Linked DNA regions of Homo sapiens. The protein of the gene in region 1 binds, or shares a complex with, the protein of each later gene. Each region holds a gene or a part of one and is shown on either strand. Other genes may lie near its edges.

Region 1 (3,500 bases):
CTTGGGTTTTAAAGCTAGCTTTTCATCTGTAAATTGAGGATGATAAAGATATTTATATACTTCACAGGGTTGTTGTAAAGGTTAAATAAAACATTAATAGTATGGTACCTGGCAACAGAAAGTGTTCCATGAATAGGGTGCCATATAAATTACTACCCAAATTGGTGCATTTTAGAGTAAAAGGGGGAACTATTGTTTTACTATGTGCTTTTTTCTTATGTTTGTGTTTTCACTCAGATACACTTCAAACACTCAATATTTTTATGACTGGTTCTATTTACATGTTATCCAGTTTTTTACCCAAAGCTCAAAATCACTTATACTCTTTTGACAGATGATGTACCAGCATCTACTTACATTGCAAAATATACACATGAAAATAGAAAAACATGATTTAAGAATTCTTGATCCTCCAAACTCCTAATTCTTTAAAAAAGTTGTAAAATATCTAACACAAAATTTGCCATTTTAACCATCTTTAAGTGTAAAATCCATTGGCATTAATTATATTCACAATGTACTGTAGCCATCACCACTATCTGTTTCCAAAACTTTTTTACCACTCCAAGGAGGAACTCTGTACCTATTAAGCACTAACTCCCTATTCCTTGCTTTCCCTACTTCCTAGTAACCTCTAAGGACTTTCTGTCCCTTTGTGTTTGCCTATCCTAGATTATTTCATATAAGTAAAATTATAAAATATTAGTTCTTTTGTGTTTGGCTCATTTCACTTGGTATGTTTTCAAGGTTTATTAATGTTATAGCATGTGTCAGAATGTCATTCCTTTTAATGGTTGAATCATATTCCATTGTATGTATGTACCACAATTTAGCTGTTCATCTGTTATGATCCTTGTGTTGTTTTCACCTTTTGGTCACTGTGAAAGAATTCTTGATTTGTATTGCTTATTTTCTTTTACAAAGTTTTGATTTAATTCAGAGTTCAAGATTATGTTTAATTACTAATAATCATTGTTGAATAAACACAAGTGTTGGAATCAGAATCTCTTAAGACCAAGGCTAGTAAACATAAATATGAACTATCCTTTTCATGCATTTTATTTGTAATAACAAAAATGTACAACAAATCAAAATGGTTATTTAGGTGAGAGAGGTTGTCATTGTCATTCCCTATTGTAAAAGAACCAGTCATATAGATTTATAATTCATAACTTACCTTTTCATGCCATTGCAGTAACATAGCACTGCTATTGTCAGACGGGCTCTCAAATCCTTTATAAATATACTTCATTAGGAGATCCACACCATTCTTGTCCAGAGATTGAACTGCCTTTTCTATATCATTAGCTTTAAAAGAGATGAGCACCTTCAAGACAATGCTGCCTGCCCGGTCCTGGTGGGTCAATAAATAACAGAACATTTAGACATATCTGTATGAGGAGGGTTTAGAATTTCAGAAAGTCTACACTATGAATGTGACATTTGAGTAAGGACCTGAAGGACGTGAAAGAAGGCTTGGGATAACTGAGGAAAGTGTTTCAGACAGAGGAAAGAACAGTGCTATTAGTGTGTGTTCAGTGTGTTCCAGGAACAGAAAAAAACCCAATGTGGTTGGAGTGGATTGGTGGGAGAAAAGCACGTGAGTAAGTCAGAGGTTATGGGAGGACAGATCGTGTAAGGCCTACAGGCATTGTAAGGAGTTTGGCTTTTACTGAGAGAAATGAGAAGACATTGGAAGGTTTTAAGAGCAGTGCCATAATCTGACTCACATTTTAACAGGATTGCTTTGGCATCTATGTTACAGAAAATAAGCTGTGGGAGTAGGGGATAAGGTAGAAGCAGGGAGAGCAATTAGGAGGCAATTGCAATAATACAGGCTGGATGTGGTAAGCATAGTAGCAGTGGAGGTGGTAAGAAACTAGACAGACTATTAACATAATTGAAGGCAGAGCTGAGAGGATTTGCTAACAGATCAATGTGATAATTTAACAATTTATTAAAACAACATTTAAATTTATGTCTTGATCTTAAAAAAAAAAAATCCCAACAAAACGGCCGGGTGTGGTGGCCCACAGCTGTAATCCCAGCACTTTGGGAGGCCGAGATGGGCAGATCACCTGAGGTCAGGAGTTCGAGACCAGCCTGGCCAAAATGGTAAAACCCTGTCTCTACTAAAAATACAGAAATTATCCAGGCATGGTGGTGTGTGCCTGTGATCCCAGCTACTCGGGAGGCTGAAGCAGGAGGATTGCTTAAACCCGGGAGGCGGAGGGTGCAGTGAGTTGAGATTGCACCACTGCACTCCAACCTGGGTGATAGAGTGAGACTCCGTCTCAAAAAAAAAAAAAAAAAAAAAAAATTCCCAACAAAACAAGGAGGCAGATTTGCAGTTTCACCTTGAATTATCCTTCAGAAGTAATTTTTTCTTAAAAACTTTTTTATTTAAAAATTTTAATAAACCAAGCTGTCTTAAAAGAAAATTGACTGTAATTTATATGAATTGACTGTAGATATGAAATATAGTGATGTTCATTAATAATGATCTTTTTTCTTTGGCAAAAGCCTGCTTCAAAAGCAGTTATTTTCTTACCCATCCGGCCAAGCAAAGGAAACACTTAACTGACCTTTTCAACAATTCGTTTCTCCTTCCATTCAACACAAAGTGATACCTCCAGCATTCCTACTGGTCAGGATTTCACAGAATGTTTCTACCACCTACTGTTATCTTTGGTTTAAAGACTGCAATTACCAGATTTAGAAAAATATCTTTGCATCCACGGTAAAAATGAAATTTCAACGACAATCTTTACAACTTGTAAAAACCAAAGAAATTTTCCCCAATAAAAAATTATGTTACCTAGATAATTATTATGCATTTACCTAAGTTATTACTTACTACTATTCAATTGAGATTCTTGAAGCTCCTAGGATGTATGAATAGCTATGGACAACGGGGTTGATGCTATGGGCATCATTTTAAATAAATACGTAAATAGGTTAAGAATTAGTAAAAGACTGCAGAGAATGTAAGTTGCACAACTGTTCTGAAGGGCAATTTGGCAATACTGCATACCAAAAGCCTTAAAAAAAAGTGCATTCTTTGATCCAGTAATTCACTGCTAGCAATTTACTCAAAGAGAACAATTAAAAATTTACCAAAAAATATTGATTTCAGTGGTTTACAATAGGAAAAAAAAAGTCAGTCTAAATATATAACAAAAGATTAGTTATGTATACACTGCAGCTTATCCATATACAAGTGTTAAAAATGCTATAAACTTATTGCGAAGGAAAGCTCATGTACATTGCATATAGCTGAAAAAGCACGTTATAAAATTTCATTCTTAAAAAAACAAAAGGGAACTCTGTAACAATACAGCAAGGCCCCAAAGTAGTAACTGTTATCTCTGGGTGCTGGGACCACAAACCACTATCTTTTTAACCTTCTCATATGTCTGAGCTTTCTATAATAAGTATTTAGTATTTGTATGGTTTTAAAAAATCTTTAAAAAGCAATTACAATCTGTTTATTTTTGTAA
Region 2 (3,500 bases), on another chromosome or scaffold:
CATTGGCCTTGAAGTAATAGATGGCTTCATCCACAATATCTGTATCTTTTGCTAAGCAGGACACAAGGGAAGGAGCACAGAGAACATTAGCCAAATACAAAACATAACAACTATCAAAGCCATAAAGGGAAAACACATACAACTGTCAACAGTTGTGGAGTTGAATAAAATAAAATGATCCTATTGAAATACAAAGTTTTTAGAAAATATTTATTTGTTTTTTTTTTGAGACAGAGTCTCGCTCTGTCACCCAGGCTGGAGTGCAGTGGCGTGATCTTGGCTCACTGCAAGCTCTGCCTCCCGGGTTCACGCCATTCTCCTGCCTCAGCCTCCTGAGTAGCTGGGGCTACAGGCACCTGCCACCACACCCCGCTAATTTTTTGTATTTTTAGTAGAGATGGGGTTTCACCATGTTAGCCAGGATGGTCTTGATCTCCTGACCGCGTGATCCGCCCATCTCGGCCTCCCAAAGTGCTGGGATTACAGGCATGAGCCACCGTGCCCAGCCTTTGTTTTTTTTTTTGAGACAGAGTTTCACTCTGTCGCCCAGGCTGGAGTGCAGTGGCGCGATCTTGGCTCACTGCAAGCTCCGCCTCCCGGGTTCACGGCATTCTCCTGCCTCAGCCTCCCAAGTAGCTGGGGCTATAGGCACCTGCCACCATGCTCAGCTATATTTTTTGTATTTTTAGTAAAGACGGGGTTTCACCGTGTTAGCCAGGATGGTCTTGATCTCCTGACCTCGTGATCCGCCCATCTCGGCCTCCCAACGTGCTGGGATCACAGGCATAAGCCACCGTGCCCGGCCAAATTTTTTTTTTTTGAGACGGAGTCTTGCTCCGTCGCCCAGACTGGAGTGAAATGGCATGATCTCGGCTCACTCTGCCTCCCGGGTTCAAGCGATTCTCCTGCCTCAGCCTCCCAAGTAGCTGGGATTATACGCATGTACCACCAGGCCTGGCTAATTTTTGTATTTTTAGTAGAAATGGGGTTTCACCTTGTTGGTCAGGCTGGTCTCGAACTCCTGACCTCGTGATCTGCCTGCCTCAGCCTCCCAAAGTGCTGGGATTACAGGAGTGAGCCACCACCCCCGGATTTTCAGAAAATATTTATAGAAAAGTAGTACATGGTTTATTTTTACAGCTTTATTGTTTTCGTAAAACTTATACATGCTCATTAGAAAATGAAATTCAATCAAAACAGTTTTATTTTTTAGAGAGAGGTCTTGCTCTGTTACCCGGGCTGGAGTGCAGTGGTACAATTATAACTCACCACAGACTTGAATTCCTGAGCGCAAGTGATCCTCCTGCTTCAGCTTCCCAGGTAGCCGGGACTACAGGCATGCACCATGAGGCCTGGCTAATTTTTTTCTTTAAAAATTAAATAAAATTTTTAAAGAAAAGTTTTTAAAGATGGCTGGGCACAGTGACTCACGCCTGTAATCCCAACACTTTGGGAGGCCGAGACGGGTGGATCACCTGAGGTCAGGAGTTTGAGAGCAGCCTGGCCAACATGGTGAAACTGCGCCTCTACTAAAAATACAAAAAATTAGCCAAGCATGGTGGCAGGCACCTGTAATCCCAGCTATTCGGGAGGCTAAGGCAGGAGAATCGCTTGAACTCGCGGGTGGAGGATGCAGTGAGCCAAGATTGCACCATTGCACTCCAGCCTGGGCAACGAGATCAAAACTCTGTCTCCAAAAAAAAAAAAAAAGTTTTTTTTAGAGATGCAGTCTCACTATGTTGCCTAGGCTGGTCTCAAACTCCTGGCCTCAAGTGATCCTCCTGCCTCCTGAGTAGCTAGGATTACAGGCATAAGCCACAGCACCAGGCAAAAAAAAAATTTTTAATTGTCACCTTAATTCCCATTTCCCCAAAAATAACTACCATTAGCATTTGGTGAACATTATTCAAGACGTCTCTCAATGCATTTATAAAAAAACACTGAGACATAGACTAACTTTAACTGCTTCCTAAAAATAAAAAGTATTCAGTCGGGCGCAGTGGCTCACGCCTGTAGTCCCAGCACTTTGGGAGGCTGAGGCGGATGGATTGCCTGAGGTCAGGAGTTCGAGACCAGCCTGGCCAACATGGAGAAACCCTGTCTCTACTAAAAATACAAAAACTAGCCGGGCATGGTGGTACGTGCCTGTAATCCCAGCTACTCAGGGGGCTGAGGCAGGAGAATTGCTTGAACCCAGGAGGCAGAGGTTGCAGTGAGCTGAGATCATTCCACCAAACTCAAGCCTGGGTGACAGAGCGAGACTCCATCTCAAAAAAGTAATAATAAAAAATATATATAATTAAATAAAATAAAAAGTATTCAATATAATTTTATTTGAATTTACATATTATAGTTTCAGAAAAAAACTCAATTATTTAGAACATGTTGAGGTTCAGATACACATCTTTCTTTTTATGAAAACTATGACTTAAAATATACTTGTACAAGCTGTTGTAGGTAGCTCTAGACGGACAAAAGCCAGAAATACTGTCTTGACAAAGACAGATCTCATGACACAATTTGTTTGGCAATTTTTTGTTTTTCTTCTTCTTATTTTAAAAAGGTCAAAATCCCAGGGTCTTGATATCTGGCAGTTGGTTTCAGCAGTGCTGAGACAGTTACTTATACTTCTTGTCTATGACTGTTAACGTTCTCGCACAGCAGAAATGCAAAGTAATCTTGAAGCTTTCATACTCTGCAATTCAGTTGTCTTCATCCCAGCTCATTGCCCTGTGGAAGAATTTCAACAGAACTCTAACTCTAGACTTGTGTTCCTTGCAATTTACTTTTTTTTTTTTTGAGATGGAGTCTCGCTCTGTTGCCCAGGCTGGAGTGCAGTGGTGCAATCTTGGCTCACTGCAAGCTCTGCCTCCTGGGTTCACGCCATTCTCCTGCCTCAGCCTCCCGAGTACCTGGGACTACAGGAGCCCGCCACCACGCTTGGCTAATTTTTTGTATTTTTAGTAGAGATGGGGTTTCACCGTGTTAGCCAGGATGGTCTCGATCTCCTGACCTCGTGATCCACCCGTCTTGGCCTCCCAAAGTGCTAAAGTACTGGGATTACAGGCGTGAGCCACCGCGCCACGCCCTATTTTTTATTTATTTATTTTTTCGAGATCAAGTCTCACTTTGTCGCCCAGGCTGGAGTGCCATGGCACAATCTAGGCCCAGTGCAACCTCCGCCTCCTGAGTTCAAGTGATTCTCCTGTCTCAGCCTCCCATGTAGCTGGGACTACAGGTGCCTGCCACCACAGCTAGCTAATTTTGGTATTTTTGGTAGAGACAGAGTTTCACCATGTTGGCCAGGCTGGTCTCAAACTCCTGACCTGAGGCAATCTGCCCGCCTCAGCCTCCCAAAGTGCTGGGATTACAGGCGTGAGCCACTATGCCTGGCTGCAATCTGTTTTCTTATCTGTGAAAGAAAACTGTCTTGGAGGACTCAATATTGTTTCCAAAAACCAGCTAGTTCTTCTAAATGCAATGACAGGAGGGGGCAAAGG

The links.
Region 2: ARPC5 (region 1) and ARPC3 share a complex: the UniProt entries of both Homo sapiens proteins name them as parts of the arp2/3 complex.

What each region holds. Positions count from the first base shown.
Region 1 is NC_000001.11:183,629,284-183,632,783, forward strand, and holds part of ARPC5 (actin-related protein 2/3 complex subunit 5), read right to left. Parts: intron 1,355-3,500; coding exon 1,178-1,354; intron 1-1,177. UniProt on the Homo sapiens protein: Component of the Arp2/3 complex, a multiprotein complex that mediates actin polymerization upon stimulation by nucleation-promoting factor (NPF).
Region 2 is NC_000012.12:110,440,338-110,443,837, forward strand, and holds part of ARPC3 (actin-related protein 2/3 complex subunit 3), read right to left. Parts: intron 52-3,500; coding exon 1-51. UniProt on the Homo sapiens protein: Component of the Arp2/3 complex, a multiprotein complex that mediates actin polymerization upon stimulation by nucleation-promoting factor (NPF).